2 linked regions of the Homo sapiens genome follow. The protein of the gene in region 1 binds, or shares a complex with, the protein of each later gene. Each region holds a gene or a part of one and is shown on either strand. Other genes may lie near its edges.

Evidence for each region. Proteins that work in one complex are often made in the same cells at the same time.
Region 2: the proteins of ARHGEF12 (region 1) and PLXNB1 are in contact, whole or in part, in an NMR structure (PDB 2OS6), measured with the Homo sapiens proteins. Residues at the interface, in NP_056128.1 of Homo sapiens: Phe82, Gly83, Leu84, Thr85, Val86, Ser87, Gly88, Asp89, His127, Val131, Lys135; in NP_001123554.1 of Homo sapiens: Glu2129, Lys2131, Val2132, Thr2133, Asp2134, Leu2135.

Annotation. Positions count from the first base shown.
Region 1 is NC_000011.10:120,331,182-120,339,906, forward strand, and holds the start of ARHGEF12 (rho guanine nucleotide exchange factor 12), read left to right. Parts: upstream 1-5,231; 5' UTR 5,232-6,062; coding exon 6,063-6,094; exon of another isoform or gene 6,095-6,688; intron 6,689-8,725. UniProt on the Homo sapiens protein: May play a role in the regulation of RhoA GTPase by guanine nucleotide-binding alpha-12 (GNA12) and alpha-13 (GNA13). Acts as guanine nucleotide exchange factor (GEF) for RhoA GTPase and may act as GTPase-activating protein (GAP) for GNA12 and GNA13.
Region 2 is NC_000003.12:48,406,062-48,413,659, reverse strand, and holds part of PLXNB1 (plexin-B1 precursor), read left to right. Parts: intron 1-122; coding exon of another isoform or gene 123-273; exon of another isoform or gene 274-490; coding exon 491-591; intron 592-700; coding exon 701-918; intron 919-1,039; coding exon 1,040-1,218; intron 1,219-1,355; coding exon 1,356-1,422; intron 1,423-1,650; coding exon 1,651-1,797; intron 1,798-2,623; coding exon 2,624-2,792; intron 2,793-3,101; coding exon 3,102-3,205; intron 3,206-3,276; coding exon of another isoform or gene 3,277-3,279; coding exon 3,280-3,364; intron 3,365-3,582; coding exon 3,583-3,755; intron 3,756-3,928; coding exon 3,929-4,089; intron 4,090-4,183; coding exon 4,184-4,331; intron 4,332-6,568; coding exon 6,569-6,633; intron 6,634-6,761; coding exon 6,762-6,837; intron 6,838-6,919; exon of another isoform or gene 6,920-7,092; intron 7,093-7,598. UniProt on the Homo sapiens protein: Receptor for SEMA4D. Plays a role in GABAergic synapse development. Mediates SEMA4A- and SEMA4D-dependent inhibitory synapse development. Plays a role in RHOA activation and subsequent changes of the actin cytoskeleton.

The DNA of each region.
Region 1 (8,725 bases):
TTACTTATAGTTTTGATTTATTATAGTGAAAAGATACAAAGAAAAATCGGTAAAAGGAAAAGGCACCTGAGACAAAGTCTAGGGTAAAGCAAGCACAAGTTTCCAGAGTCCTCTCCCAATGGAATCACACAGGATGCACTTAATTCCCCTAGCAGTGATTTGTTACGACATGTGAATGAGTTGTCTACTGGACAAGGTCACTACAGACTCAGTGCCCAAAGTTTTTACTGAGGACAGGTCATCTAGGCAGGCTTTCCCTGGCAGATAGCAAAATTCAAGACTCTCAAAAGGAAAGCAGGTGTTCAGCATAAGCCATATTGTTTGCACAAGCAGTTCAGACACAGTAAGCCAGTCTTATCAGTTAATTGTGGGAGCCCCTCCAAAATCTAAGTTCCCAAATGCCGGCCAGTGGCCAACCCTGTAATCAGGCCTCTCCAAGGATAGCAGTTTAGGCCTGCTATGTTAACTCTTTTCTGCACAAAACCTATAGAGTTAGGGCTTTGGATCTGAGATGAATGAAGTGTGGGTAGATTTACTGAGTCCTGTTATATGGGTTCTGCCCTACCAGGAAAACTATGCCAGTTCTCAGGGCTTTTGTGCATTAATCTCCTAGGCATTTGAGGCTATGACTAAATTCCATAGGGATTTATCATGTGGATTCCACTGTGCTTGAGATGGCAGTTTAGATTTCAGCTCTGCTGTACATATTGCAAACTAGAGCCAAAGACTTTAAAGTGTGTACTGGCCTCAGGGGGATGAGGTTAATTTTTTTTTTTCATTTTAGATACTTTCCCTTTTAGTACTCCTCCTACTTTTCTTATTTTTACTAAAAAGGTACCACTCTATGAACAAACTAATAAAACAAGGCCAGTCTTGGAAGGAAAAAAATAATAATTCTTAGTGTGACAGTCTCCAAGAGAAGCAAGAATATAAGCTTAGAACAAGGGGTTAAGAATCCAGAATTCCTGGGTTCTTTTAACTAATTTTGCTACTCACTTGCCACTTTGGAGAGCTACTCACTCACTTTGGATAGGTTACTTGTTTCTTCTTTGCCTGAGTTTAAACCTATTGTGAATGAATGAAATACCCTGTAGTATATTTCATAAATACATTATGTGGCATTTTATTAATGGAGGTCTTTAATGTAGGGCTTTTATGGAAATATGAAGTATTTATGTATTTATTGATTATTTATTTTTACCATGTTATTGAAGTCAATGGTGTTTGATTAGCTCAGTGGGTGAGCAAGCATATGGTGCTACTGGAGTCAAGGCTGGTCAGTAGGAAGCATCAGTCCATTCCATGGCCACTGGTAATCTAACGTAATGAATGGTGTCTTTTGTTGTTGTTGTTGTTGTTGTTGTTGTTTGAGACAGAGTCTTGCTCTGTCGCCCAGGCTGGAGTGCAGTGGTGTGATCTCAACTCACTGCAACCTCCGCCTTCTGTGTTCAAGTGATTCTCCTGCCTCAGCCTCCCGAGTAGCTGGGACTACAGGCGTGTGCCACCATGCCTGGCTACTTTTTGTATTTTTAGTAGAGACGGGGTTTCACCATGTTGGCCAGGCTGGTCTTGAACTCCTGACTTCATGACCCACCCGCCTCGGCCTCCCAAAGTGCTGGGATTACAGGTGTGAGCCACCGTGCCCAGCCATGAGCGGTCTTGAAAATGAAAAATGGTCTTGGCCACAGAAACCAGGTATGAGGGAGTGGTTGGAATGGTATAAAGTCATCACTGTTAGGGAAACAGTAACTTTAAATGCATGTTAACAGTGGGTCTTTAAAAATGAATGTCATTTGGTTAAAGAGTTTTGCTGGGCATTGAGATAATCTGACAGCATCTCCACTTCCTGTTTTTTTTCTTAATCTCCACTTTTTTTTTTTCTATGATGAGCGCCCCTAAAATGCTGGTAAGCTTCTTTCCAACAAAATTGCGGTCAAAGTAGGATGCTGGGGAATGCTGATTTTAGCAAAAGCTTGTAGAAAAGAGTGGCCTGGCACATGAGCTTAAAAAAAAGAAAAAAAGCTGGCTCTTGAATTTTGGCACAGTGCAACCTGTTCCATACCAGACAAATGAACAGGCTTAATCTGGTACCAATTCTTTTTCTCTCTTACTCCTCAGAAGTGAAGGGACTGCAGATCTTGTTGTTTTGGGGACACTTTCATGGAACTGTATGTAGGTTTTTTTGAATGGTGAGAAATCTGAATAATTGGTAAGGGGAAGGGAATCCCTCATTTCAGCTTTTCTTGATGTTGTTACTAATAACTATGAAAAAACTTCTGAGAGAACAATGTGAACTGAAGATGACTCAGCAGTTAAGACAATGCTAAGTTCTGAAACCACAGGTAAATGAAGGGCTAATTAATGTGTGGTATACTTGGACAAAATGAAGTACTCATTTGCACTGGATTACTGTGTAATGATAACGAACACTGTTCAAGAACGATTTATATTTCCATAAGATTTGTACTAAATTTTATAAAAGTAAAACAACTTTTTATAAACCCAGAGTCTGTCTTTATATTTATGTGGTGGTTTTGCCAAGAAGTTAAAAAAAGCCTTTTGACCTGTAGAAATGTTGACCTGTATTCATACTTACTAGTGAATATCTCTAATCTGCTGTTCATTATCCATCATTCCCCCTATTTTTTTTTATTTTGGGGGGTAACAGTTGACATACACAAAACAGTTTGCCAAAAGAGAGAGGAAGAACCTTAATGTGTTTCTTGTTCTGCCACCTGTTTGGACACTTGTCTTGAAAATGTTGATGTCAAGTGAGTTGACATCAGAGACATCATCTGAAGACAGCTGGAGGCCCTGTCTTGAGGACTGTACTACCAATGCCTAAAACAGTCTGGGATGCATAGTAGATACTTAGTAAGCATGTTGAAAGAATGGACAAGAGGATGAGAATGTGGTTTAGAATCATCCCCATTGGAAAACCTCCTCAAAGGTTTTCCCAGTGGATTGGGTCATCAATGTCATTTTTCTAAGTAAAGTACTACGGACCCTGAGGAGTGTGTTCTACCCAGACTGGCTTGACTTTCTGAAGGCATCCTATAGTTACAGCCTTTAGAACAGTTGAGCTATCGGCAGCTTTAAAGAGGCTTTCAGTTTTTTTTTTTTTTAAATCATTAATGCTTTGTAGGTGACTATAGAGATTTTCATCATTTAAAAAAATTAGTTCTGGAATGAATAACCACTGGCTTAATTCAATCTTTTGCTTACCATCTTCTGAAGCTTTCCCACAGCAAAATGCCTTCTTTGCTCACAGCTAGAACCGTGGGTCTGTTTAAGTTTGGAAAGATCTTGAAAGCAGCTTGCCAAGAGGTTTTGTATGCAAGGAAGAGAAGGTGAATTAGGAAACTTTCCCAGTTTGTTTTATTCCTGAAGCTTAAGTATTGAGGCTTCCCTCAAGTATTAAGGGAAGAGAGGAACTCCAAAATGCATGATTTGATGAGTCATTGGGTTCAATTAATTTTATACTTACACTGTAACATTATTAGGATAGGGGAAAATAAGATATTTAGTACTTTTAAGAAAGATTTATTAAGTTTGGGGATAAGGTTTGCATTTTGGTCAGTATATATATGTATATATGTGTGTATATATATGTGTATATATATGTATATATATGTGTATATATGTATATATGTGTGTATATGTGTATATGTGTGTGTGTGTGTATATATATATATATATATATATATATATATATATATATGAATGGGATTCCTTCCGGTTGCATGTAAACACTCAATTTAAGAGTCTTCAGGGTAGAATTGTCATGCTAGAATACACCAGCAGGTGGCAATGTGTCCTGGTCTCATCATTAGGGAAGTGCCTTGGCTAATCTGCTTCTATTCTTTCCAAAAATAAACATTACAAAATTAGTTGGCTGTGCCTTGAACCTAAAAAATCGAGCAATAAAGAGTCGTCTCTGGTCTCTGTTTATCTTTTCCTTTTTTTCCCCCCCGTTCTAACTAACGTCAGCGTGAGCTCATGCCTCTATTCGGGGATAATGATCCTTTCATGAACTGTTGCGGAATGACTTTTTGCAACAGCATTGTTAAGAGGTAATTGTTTCCTCTCTCCACATCCACTGTTTATTAGATTTGATTTGCTACTTGGATTCCACAAAATGGCTGAAATCCCTTGTCACCAACATAGGTTTAAGCTCAAAAGTCTGAAAATAGTTGGATAAAGGGAATAGCCACTTTGGATGTTTGCAGGCAGAACTGAAGAACTGTATTACATGTGGTACCTAAATTGCCAAAATACTGAATTATTCAATCATAAAACTAGATGGGTATCTAAAGCTCTCTACCCAGTAGGGGAAAAAACCGAAAAACCGTTTGGGAATCCTTCAGAGAGAACCGTAATGCTATTTACTGGATAAATATACTTCATTTTCTTCTCCCAGTTCTTTCCACAACACGCTTGTTAAGTCGCCATGGAAAGCACCATGCTTTATCAATTTGGCAAATAACACATTTCATTTTGCCAAGGCAGAAACAGCCTAAAAGTAATATTTATACCGAGAAACCCTGGCTGCAGTCCCCAGCTGCTCTCCCGCAGCCCTGCGCCTCCGGCTCATGCAGCGCTCTCCCCCCGGAGCCGGCAGGTGCCCAGGTGAGCGGGGCCTGCGGAGGCAGCGAGGGGCGCCGGCCGGGAACCGGCAGAACGCGTGCAGCCAGAAGACAGGAGAGATAATACATTCCCTTAAGTAATAAAAGTTTCCAGGACAAGGGGGGCTGGTAATTTTCAAAGAGCCTCCCGGCACGATGTCCTCGGGATCTGGGGGGCGCTCTCGGGCGGTCTCTGGTGAAAGTCGACTTAGTACAAACTGGACTCGAAGGGGCATGTCTCGGCACTCAGGGGCCCAGGCGCCGCGGGAGGTGGGTGGGCCTCCCGGGGCTGCACGGGTCCCACCTCCCTCTGCCCCGTAGGACTACTTTGCCGCTCTCCCAAACCGGGCTCCGGCGGAGGCGTCCGTTCAAGGGCGAGAGCGCGGCCCTGAGCGGCGGAGGGATCCCGGGTGAGGCGGCTTCCCGAAGTCAGAGGGGAGGGGGCCATAAAGTCGGCGGGGGACGGGAAGCGCGAGCTCGCGCCGGACGCGGCCAGGGCCGGGAAACCAGAACCGGAACCGGAACCCGCGCGCGCGCCCGCGGTTGCGCGGCCCCCACGGCCGCCGGCCTCCTCCGCTGTCTGCGCGCGCGCCCGCGAGGGCCTCCAGAACCCGGCGAGCCGGCCCTGCGCCGGGAGACGCCGCCGCCTCCGCCTCCCGGACCAGGGCTTCCAGGCCGGGCCGGACGGGCATCTCCCGCCCCTCGCGGGGAGCGTCGGGGAGGAGCCGCCGCCTCTGGCGATTGCGGAAGAGTCCGGGCCTCAAAGGGATGGGGAGCAGTCCGCGGCGCTGAGAGACCCGGGTCCCTGTCACCTCGGGCCGCGGGACCTCTCCGCCGGCGCCAGCGGCTCGTCCCAGCACCGGGAGCCTGGTGAGGGCGGCGAGCACAGAAGGAGCCCCGGGCCCGGGACATGGAATCGCGCGAGCCCGGCGCGGGACGGCCGGAGACGCGGCCAACGCTGCGGCCACGAGCAGCCGGCAGCCCCAGATAGAGAGCCGGGAGGGAGGGCCCCGGCCCTTGCCGCGGCGGGGAGTTCGAGGCCCCGAGACTCCGGAGGAGGAGCCGACACCCGTCCGTGAGCTGATCCCGCCCCAGCCCCGGCGGGAGTCCCGGGTCCCCTTCCCACTGCGCGCGGATTTCCCTCTCTGAGGAAGTTTATCCTTGTGCCTTCTGGAGGATTTCTCTCTAGCTCGACTCACTCTGGACTGACTCGCTCCCTGGCTTTCTCAGTTCGTTTTGGGAGATAACTTGTTTTGCTCCAAGCCGCATCCGTTGACCCCTTACAGTCGGATGGTCTAGATGACTGAATGGAGTTTTGAGTTGGACTTTTGTGTCCCTGACGGAGTTGGGCCTGATCCCAGAGCACTGGGGGTGGGGAGGAGGTGTTACTGTAAAATGCAAGTTGGATAAAAGGAGGACCTCTCGCCAAGGGCCCCAATGAGTGGCACACAGTCTACTATCACCGACAGGTTGGTATGAATTCCTCCTTCGTTCGGCCTCCCGGAATCGGGCCCGACCTAGCAGGGGAGTCGGTGATTGCAGATTGCCTTTGGCCAGCGAAGTTGACAGGCAGAGGAAAGAGGGTTGTTTCGGAGCTGTGCAGTTAGCCTGGGGTTGCTGCCGAGTTATCCAGTTGATTGGCTTTTGGAAATGTAATTTTTCCGGAGAGAAACTTCCCTTCCGATTCTCAGAGAAGGGGGAGGCAAAACCATGATTGTGGTTTTCCGCCTGTAGTGTGCATTAGGATTGTGTACTCGTCTGGAAATCAGAGGAGAAGGTCATTTTAGGTGAAGGTCGGTGCCTGAAGTCGGCTCGGTATTGGTGTATTATTTATCAGCTTTAGCCGTGTCCTGCAGTAGATTCTCAAGACAATTACATTTTAGGAATTTCTACCTGTGAACTTAATGTTGAGCCTACTGCATGGTGATCTGGGAACTTGATCTCTTTCAGATGTTGACCTGCACGGTGTTTAATTATTATCTAATAACTTTCCAGAATGTTGACATTACCAGTAAATCACAGGTTCTTGCTGGAAGCAATGTCCAGGAGCTGAAGAAATGAGGGTAAATCATGGGGTTTGCTTTTAATTCTTGTATTTAAATATTTCGTCTTCCAGAAACACTTGGCGTTTAAGAGATATAAGCCGTAAGCATAGTGTAAGCGCGCAGCTGAATTTGTTGAGTTCTGTGTCTGTCCTTTATAGCACCTACCAGTGTTGCATGGTGGTGGGTGGCGAATTGAGCTAGACCATGTGTGGTTGAAGTGCAGTTTGCTTATCCTAAGTTACTCTTGTTTATAGGGTAAGGGATAAAAAGCATATTGATTCCTTGACCACATTTCATTCTCAATTTAATTATGACACTGCATGCTAGTCCCAAATTTGTCAGCTTGCTTTATTTTTAAGTCAGTCTTCGAATTATTACACCGTGAAAAAATAGATCAAGTAACTGAATTAGAGGGCCAAAGCTCTTTGATGAAAAGTGCAACAATAGTGCTTCTGCACAAAGTAGTCTTAATTTCCTAATAAGAGTTTTACCCAATTGTAAGACTCATTTGTTGATTTTAAAAGGGCCAAATTCCATTATCATACCATAACAGCTACTCCAGAAACAGAACTTCCTCTTCCTGTTGATGCTTTCCAGCATCACATGAATGTTCACTTAAAAGAGTCTGTTAAATATTTAAAGTATTTATATTTACTCTTTGTGTATTTTTCAAAGTGGGTTTTCATTTTCAATGAAATAATTTTTAACTTTTCCAAGAATACACTTAAGATAAGTATTGACAATGCTTATCTTACTTTCTTCTGGTTATCCCCATTTTTTTCCTTTCAGGGTGTTTTGCTTCTGAGAAATCACTTTTACGGGTGTGGGGATAATTGTTTTCCTGCTTCATTCAATTCTCGCTCTTTCTGTTGAGCCTGTAAACAAAAGTCTTGCTAGGAACTAATGTAATGTTGGTTTTCATTGCGATGCTGAGGTGTTTAATTTATGGAAACAGAACGGACTCATTCCACACACAAGTGAGTGAAAAGCCCTCAAGTAATGGTTTTTCTTCAGCATTGCTTCTCAGGGATTTTCCTTGTCTTCTCGTTATCTTGGAAATAGAATCTTGGAATTTGTATCCTCTTTATAACGTAGATGGCATATAAACATTCAATAAATATGAAATTACTGAAAGCCTGTTTCTTTTCTTTTTCTTTTTTTTTTTTTTTTTTGGCCAGGCACTGTGCAGGCACAAGAGATTACAAAATGAATATTGTAAGATTAATCTGCAAATTGGTTTGGGCATTAATGTTTTTTGAACTGGTTCAGGTGCTGCTGCCTAATTTTACATTTTTTTTTTTTAAAGAAAAGACCTTGGAAAGCCAATTAATAAGCACTGCTGAGACCTGTTTCGTAGGATTTTTTTTTACTAGGGTCTTTTTTTATTAAGAATTATTCTTATTTGACCACATTTAAATATATTTTGTAAATATAAAGCATCCATTTGCTGTTAAGAGAGTAGTTGTTCCTAATATGAATATATGTTGGGGTGAAATCTGGAGGTACTGGTTTAGTATTATTTCTCTGCCAAGGTGTCTTAACAAAGTTACGAGTATATAATAGTTTCTAGCTTTCTGTCAGCCCTACCTCATCCTTTTTTCGTAGTGTCTAACTCTTACTGTAGGTATATTTTGCTGACTCTAGAACTGTTGGAAAATTAACAGCACCAGTGTAGCTTTTTAGATAGAGATCCTTTCAAGTTTGAAGTGCTGTATGTGGTATGGCTTTGTTTCGTAGAGTGTGCAGAACCACCAGGCCAGCTGTGTGAGTTAGAGTTCTTTCATTGTGGTGCTTCTGACTACAGAGTCTGTCTGTCCTCAGTTGAAATCAGACTAGCTGGTTTTGGGCGTTGTTCTGTTTTGCAGTTTGTGGCAGGCGACACATGGCTGAACAAGATAAGGGTTTTATTCTTGTGTTAGGGACGTGCTGGGGCTGGGATGGAATTCAGCTATGTTTAGGCTCTGATTGGTCACTTTGGATACTCAGAACTCTGTTACATCCTGTTATTATTTTGCAGTTAAATCAACACATTAACTTGCTCTCTTCTCTTTCCCT
Region 2 (7,598 bases), on another chromosome or scaffold:
CCAGATGTGGCTGGGCTGGGGCAGGTCGTGGGATCTGGCTGGACTGGGAAGGGACAGACCGGGCCAGGAGTCAGGAAACATTCTCTGTAAATGGCCAGAGAGTAAATATTTTCGCTTTGCAGGCCAAGTGGTCTCTGTTCAACAACTCAGCTTTGCCACTGTGGCACAAAGGCAGCCAGGGACGACATGGAAACACATGAAAGTGGCTGTGTTCTAACAAATCTTTATAAAAATAGGTTGTGGGATGGATTTGGCCTGGTTGTGGTTGGCTGATCTCTAGGCTAAACTGTGCTGGGCTAGACGGGGCATGGGTGTGTGTGACTTGCTTGGGACGGGACAGGCTGAATCGTACTGGGCTAGGCTTGAGCTTGGCTGGCATGGCTGCATTGGACTGTGCTGGATGAGGCCGGGGTGTGCCTGGGGATTGTCAGGCAGGCCTGGGCGAGTAGGACTCATCTGGCCATCCTCTCCTGACCCTGGGGCTGAGCAGGAGGAAGAGCAAGCAGGCCCTGAGGGACTATAAGAAGGTTCAGATCCAGCTGGAGAATCTGGAGAGCAGTGTGCGGGACCGCTGCAAGAAGGAATTCACAGGTGTGGCTGAGAGAATGGGCCCCGCCCTCCAGAACTCTGCCCAAACCCACTCCCATCACACGGGATTGGTGCTTAACAGGTGCTTAACCTGGCCTCTTCTGCTTAACAGACCTCATGACTGAGATGACCGATCTCACCAGTGACCTCCTGGGCAGCGGCATCCCCTTCCTCGACTACAAGGTGTATGCGGAGAGGATCTTCTTCCCTGGGCACCGCGAGTCGCCCTTGCACCGGGACCTGGGTGTGCCTGAGAGCAGACGGCCCACTGTGGAGCAAGGGCTGGGGCAGCTCTCTAACCTGCTCAACAGCAAGCTCTTCCTCACCAAGGTACCCCCAGCTGCATCTTCCTGGCCTGCCCCTGGCCCTGCCCCTTCTCCAGGGCATGGTTTCTGAGCCCGCCCCTCTGTCCCCCTAAACCCCTTTTCCCATCCCTTCTCTTTGGCTGCAGTTCATCCACACGCTGGAGAGCCAGCGCACCTTTTCAGCTCGGGACCGTGCCTACGTGGCATCTCTGCTCACCGTGGCACTGCATGGGAAGCTTGAGTATTTCACTGACATCCTCCGCACTCTGCTCAGTGACCTGGTTGCCCAGTATGTGGCCAAGAACCCCAAGCTGATGCTGCGCAGGTCTGTGTGGCTGTTGGGGCTGGGTGGGCCCTGGACAGCTGGAGCTGGGGTGGGGCCTCGGGCTGGGGGGTCTGCAGGATAGAGAGGCCCGCAGCCCCACCTGCTGACCCTGGCACTCCCCTTTCCCATCATCTCAGGACAGAGACTGTGGTGGAGAAGCTGCTCACCAACTGGATGTCCATCTGTCTGTATACCTTCGTGAGGGTGAGGGGGCAGAGGTGGACAGGGCTCCTGTCCAGGGAGGGTCAGGCCCTCCAAACTTCTAAGCCCTCAGCCACCATGCAGCTCGGACACTTGTGCCAGAGCAGAGACTCCTGCTCAGCCTGTCCTCAGTCCCCTTAAGCCCATGTCCTGTCCCCTTCCCCAGTGTGCGTCATGTCCCATACACCTCTGCCACCTGCTGGGGGGCCCTAACTGCCTGTGCTCTCCTAGGACTCCGTAGGGGAGCCTCTGTACATGCTCTTTCGAGGGATTAAGCACCAAGTGGATAAGGGGCCAGTGGACAGTGTGACAGGCAAGGCCAAATACACCTTGAACGACAACCGCCTGCTCAGAGAGGATGTGGAGTACCGTCCCCTGGTGAGGGTGTGCAAGTGTGTGGCCTGCAGTCTGAGTGCGGTGAGGGCGAGGGTGGAGAGTGTGTGGGTGTGTGGGGTCTGGACACCAGCTTCTGATGTGGTACCTGGATGTAGAGCTGGGTTGACCTCTGGCTGGCTCCTGGAGAGAGCCCATCAGACTAGCTTAGCAGGATAGCAGTTTAGGGCAGACTTTGATGATAAGGCCTCTATGTGCCCCAGGCTAGGGATGGAACTAGGGTAGCCACAACCAGGGTTTGGGAGAAGCCAGCCCTACCTTAGACCATGGGCTTGAGCTGTGTCAGGGCCTGACCCTGTCTGCCTGGCCCTCCTACCAGGAATGCGGCCTTGCCCACCAAGCCAGCCTCACTCTGGCAGGCACTTCTCTCTGGGTTTGCTTTCCCCTTAGTTACGCACAAGGGTTCCTGTGGGAAACCCCCATTCAGGCCTGCTGAACCCCTCCCCTGTCGGATAGGTGGGAATATTTGCTCCCGATGGTGGGAATGCAGGCTTCCCGAAACTCCGTCAGCCTGACCCATTCAGCCAGGAACCTGGGGATCTGAGTGATGAGGGACTTGTGCTCACTCATTTTTTTCTGCCATTTACCCCATAGTGGTTTACAAGTGCACTGCGCTAGGTGCTGGGGTCACAATGGGGAGGAAGCTGCTGTCCCTGGGGAAGGCAGGCAGGTGAAGAGACGAGAATTAGGGATTGTGTGGTGCGTGGGGATTGGAGGCAGCAGTTTCTCATGAGTTGTCTCTGCCCTTGGCCTGTGTCTTGGTCATCCTGAGTGCACATGAACCCTGATGGCTCCTGTGTGTCCTGCACAGACCTTGAATGCACTATTGGCTGTGGGGCCTGGGGCAGGAGAGGCCCAGGGCGTGCCCGTGAAGGTCCTAGACTGTGACACCATCTCCCAGGCAAAGGAGAAGATGCTGGACCAGCTTTATAAAGGAGTGCCTCTCACCCAGCGGCCAGACCCTCGCACCCTTGATGTTGGTGAGGGCGTGGAGAGCCCCTGGGGACCTGAGCCACTGTTGGGCCTGGGCTGGCCCCGGACCAACTCTGCAGGGACAACTCATCACTCAGGGTGGGGAGGATGCTGGGAGGCAGGCAGAAGCTGGCTTTGGAACATCTTTCTTGGACAGCCTCTCATCTGGGGAGGGGGTCCCTGCTCTTGGTCTTTGGAGAGGTTGAGTAAGGCTGCCCCATGATGGAGGGGCTGGTGTCCCTGTGGAGGAGGAGATGGGCTCCACTATGGGAAGGGTATCTTCCAGCCCTGCACCCAGTTCTGCCTTGCCCTTGCAGAGTGGCGGTCTGGGGTGGCCGGGCACCTCATTCTTTCTGACGAGGATGTCACTTCTGAGGTCCAGGGTCTGTGGAGGCGCCTGAACACACTGCAGCATTACAAGGTAGGAGGAGTGGGAGCTGGAGGAGGGCATGGTGGGGTGGGACTGGTGGAGGGATCACCAGCTGTGCTCAGCAGGTCCCAGATGGAGCAACTGTGGCCCTCGTCCCCTGCCTCACCAAGCATGTGCTCCGGGAAAACCAGGATTATGTCCCTGGAGAGCGTGAGTACCGCTCCCATCACGGTCCTCTGCCCCTGCTGTGCCCAGCCCGGAGTCATGGGGAAGGTCCTCTGGGCCTCAGGGCAGGCTTGTGCCTATTTCCATTCGGCCCAGGAAATCCCTCAACCAGGTGCCCCCACCCCTGGGAGAGCTGGCAAGAAACAGGGGGCCTGGGGAGGTGGCACCTGGGGAGGGGTGACAGCTGTGGGCTCTTGGCACAGGGACCCCAATGCTGGAGGATGTAGATGAGGGGGGCATCCGGCCCTGGCACCTGGTGAAGCCAAGTGATGAGCCGGAGCCGCCCAGGCCTCGGAGGGGCAGCCTTCGGGGCGGGGAGCGTGAGCGCGCCAAGGCCATCCCTGAGATCTACCTGACCCGCCTGCTGTCCATGAAGGTGGGGTGGGGCTGCCAAGGTAGTGGGGCCTGGGCTGAGAGGGAGCATGGCCACTCGTGGGATTTGGGGGTGGTGTGGGGCTCGTGCAGGCACAGTGCCGGGGGGTGTCTGAGGCTGGGCTGCTGCTGAGGGCCCTTTGCTGACCACACCTCTCTGCTTCTTCCTTCCCACAGGGCACCCTGCAGAAGTTCGTGGATGACCTGTTCCAGGTGATTCTCAGCACCAGCCGCCCCGTGCCGCTCGCTGTGAAGTACTTCTTTGACCTGCTGGATGAGCAGGCCCAGCAGCATGGCATCTCCGACCAGGACACCATCCACATCTGGAAGACCAACAGGTGGGGTGGAGCTGGGTGGGCTCTAGGTGTGTGTGGGGGGTCTTCTCTTCTGCCTCCCCAGCACATTCATCGGCCATGCCTGCCCCACCCGCAGCTTGCCTCTGAGGTTCTGGATCAATATAATAAAAAACCCGCAGTTTGTGTTCGACGTGCAAACATCTGATAACATGGATGCGGTGCTCCTTGTCATTGCACAGACCTTCATGGACGCCTGCACCCTGGCCGACCACAAGCTGGGCCGGGTGAGCGAGTCTGGGATGGACACGGGGGGATGGGTGAGGGTGGACAGTGCTGTGTGTGCACTCAGATTCCAGGCTTTTCTGAGAACTTCAAGGAGGGCTTAGGGGAGACCTCTGACCTCCCAAGCCAAGGCTTCATCCCGGGGCCACCTCAGTTTTAAGGGATGAGCAAGAGGAGGGGACACTGTGTGCCAATTCACAGGTGAAGTTGTGTGCAGCAAGTACAGCCTGGTGTGGCTGGGGCATAGAATGCTGGCCAGGCGTGGCAGTAGGCCAGGGCCAGTTGGTCAGGACTCACTCCTGGGGCAGTGGGAGCCACAGAAGGTCTGGGAACAGGGAAGTTATGTGACCAGACCTGAGAGTTTGGTGGAACATTGTGGCTGCTGTGCATGGATGAGCTGAGTGAGGGAGTCCCAAGAGGGCGCTGTGCTGTCCTGACAAGCAGTGGCTGGGTTCAAGCCGGGTGGGAGGGTGCAGGGCAGGCAAAAGCTGAAGGTTGGATGTGGGGGATGAGGAAGAAGGAGGGGAGTCACACATGATCCCTGGGCCTCTGGCTGTGGTAAGCTTAGACTTGGAGAAGGTGAGTCTGGTGTTTGTGGGGTTTCCAGATAGAGACATGGATTGTTCAATCCCAGAGCAGCTCTGGGCTGCTGATTGGGTTTAATTCCTTAGGGTGGTGGAGGTGTCTGCCTGCCAGTAGGGAAGTAGGGAAGAGAGTTCATGGAGTGTCACAGTTTGAGGGATGTGTGAGGAGGGGAGCTGGGAAGCACAGGAGACTGAGTAGTTGGAGCCGTCCGGGAGCACAGAGGTTGGGAGTCTATTGTCATAGCAGTCAAAGCCGAGAGTCCCCTGACATATGAGGTCCCCAAGGTGTCTGCTCAAGCACCCAGTGGGCAGGGCCCTCGTGTGACTCTGCAGGTCCATGAGTGGGGCTCTGCTTAGCCTAGACCCCCAGGTCTCAGTTGGCTTGGGACTTCTTGAGAGATACATCCCTACACCTCTGGGAAAAATCAAAATTAGCTTGGCACGGTGGCTCACACCTAGAATCCCAGCACTTTGGGAGGCTGAGGTGGGCAGATCGCCTGAGGAGCTCAGGAGTTTGAGACCAGCCTGGGCAACATGGCAAAACCCTGTCTCTACAAAAAATACAAAAATTAGCCAGGAGTGGTGGTGTGTGCCTGTGGTCCCAGCTACTAGGGAGGCTGAGGTGGGAGGATGGCTTGAGCCTGGGAGGTTGAAGCTGCAGTGAGCCATGACTACTCTGTTCACTGCACTTCAGCCTGGGTAACAGAGCGAGACCCTGTCTGAAAACAAAAACAAAAACGGAAAGTTCTGTCCAAAATTGTAGCACTGTCTTTTGGGAGCCATTTTTGTTCCACATGCTGTCATCATGCCTATAATGAGCTAAGAATCAAAGGGCCACACCAGGACCCGCAGGGCCACCTCCAGGGTAGACCCTATGTGGTGGCTGGGATTTTTGCCAGATCCTTCCAGTACCTCCCCTTCCCAGCAGAACAGCAAATGGTTCCTGGGTAGCTCAGGAGTAGTCCGAACAAAGAATGCCAAGGGTTCCCCCATGGGGAGTTGTCAAGAAGGCGCGAATCCTGACTCAGGTTGACAGAGGAGCTGGCCTTGGATCCCTGCTCATGGGGGACAGTGCCACCTCGAGATATTCTCACCTTCCCAGCAGCTCTAGGATGAGGAGAGGTCCTGAGAATAGAAGTATGCTGCCCAGAGCCCATGGCTGCTGGGACTTGAACCCAGTTCAGTTGTAGACGCTGTGTCTAGGTGTGTTAAAGTGGTGGAAACTGGACAGACCTGCTTCAAATCCTAGCTCAGCCACTGGGGAGAGAGGTGGTCTGTGGCCGCTTAGGTAATGTTCTGGGTCTGTTTGCTCATTTTTAAAATGATGACCCTGGGAGTGAACAGCATGCGTCCTGCCCTACGTACCGGGCTCTTGCTGGATCTAGATGGTGGCATGTGGAGCTGAGAAATGATTTCCGATGACATCAGAGACTGGACATTGGTGGAAGGGAGGGAGCAGCAGAGGCTCCTGCGGAAGGAAGTAGGCGAGGGTGACCACCTGTCCTGGTTTTCCGGGACTCAGGGGCTTCCTGGGATGTGAGACTTTTCCTTTTCAAAACTGAAGCAGTACTGGGAAACCCAGGACACTTGATCACTCGAACAGGGACCCTCATCCTTCCTTCCTTCCTCTTTTGCTGTCCTCCTGCTATGTCCAGGACTCCCCGATCAACAAACTTCTGTATGCACGGGACATTCCCCGGTACAAGCGGATGGTGGAAAGGTACTGGAGGGCACGGTGGGTAGAGGTTGGAGGGCGTGTGCAGCTGAGGCTTGGGGGGTGGGCTCTGGTTGGGAGCAGGGGAGTGGGCTTGTTTACCCAGCAGCTGCTGTGCCCTGGCTCTCTGGCAGGTACTATGCAGACATCAGACAGACTGTCCCAGCCAGCGACCAAGAGATGAACTCTGTCCTGGCTGAACTGTCCTGGGTAAGGCCTCCCTCTGCTTCTTGGGTTGGGCATAGGCCTCCTGCCACAACGGTCCTTCCCCCTTCACACTGCCCCTTTGCAGGGAAGCCCTTGGGAACCTCAGCAGCCCTGTGAGCTGGTTGGGGCAGGAAACATAAATGCAGAATGTTCCAACTGCCACTGAAAGACCAGGGCTCCCACCATCTCATCACAGAGCAAGCAGGGGTCTTGTCCTGGCAGCTGCCATGTACCCTGATTCAGCCAGGCTCTTGCAAGGTAGCTGGGATTCAGCCCCAGGCCTGCCTGGGTCTGCCTGCATGCGTCTTCCCACTGCTGTGCTTCCCTTGGTGGCACAGGTGTCCCCTTCACCTCTCCCATTCCTGAAACCGCCCTAAAATGTAACTCCAGGGAGTTTATGAACAATGTTTCTGAAATGTTGATGATGACAACCACAACACTAATAGCAGATATAATTTTGGGGTGTTGTGTGTGAAGCCCTTCATGGGGTGCTTTGATTGTCTTATTTGATCCTCACAAGAACTCCACAAGCTAGGTGACACCAATTCCATCGTCCAGGTGAGGAAGTTGAGGCTCAGAGATGTCCCCATGGAGGGGCCTGAGAGTGACCTCAGGAAATACTTGAGTTAGGCCAGAGCAGAATCATGCTGGGCTGTCAGCCTGCAAGTGGCATCTGTGCCACTTGGCTCTGGAGTCATCTGGGTGGCAGAGGGTCTGGGCTAGAACCTCAAGGGGGTGAGAGAGGCAGGGCTTCAGTGGAAACC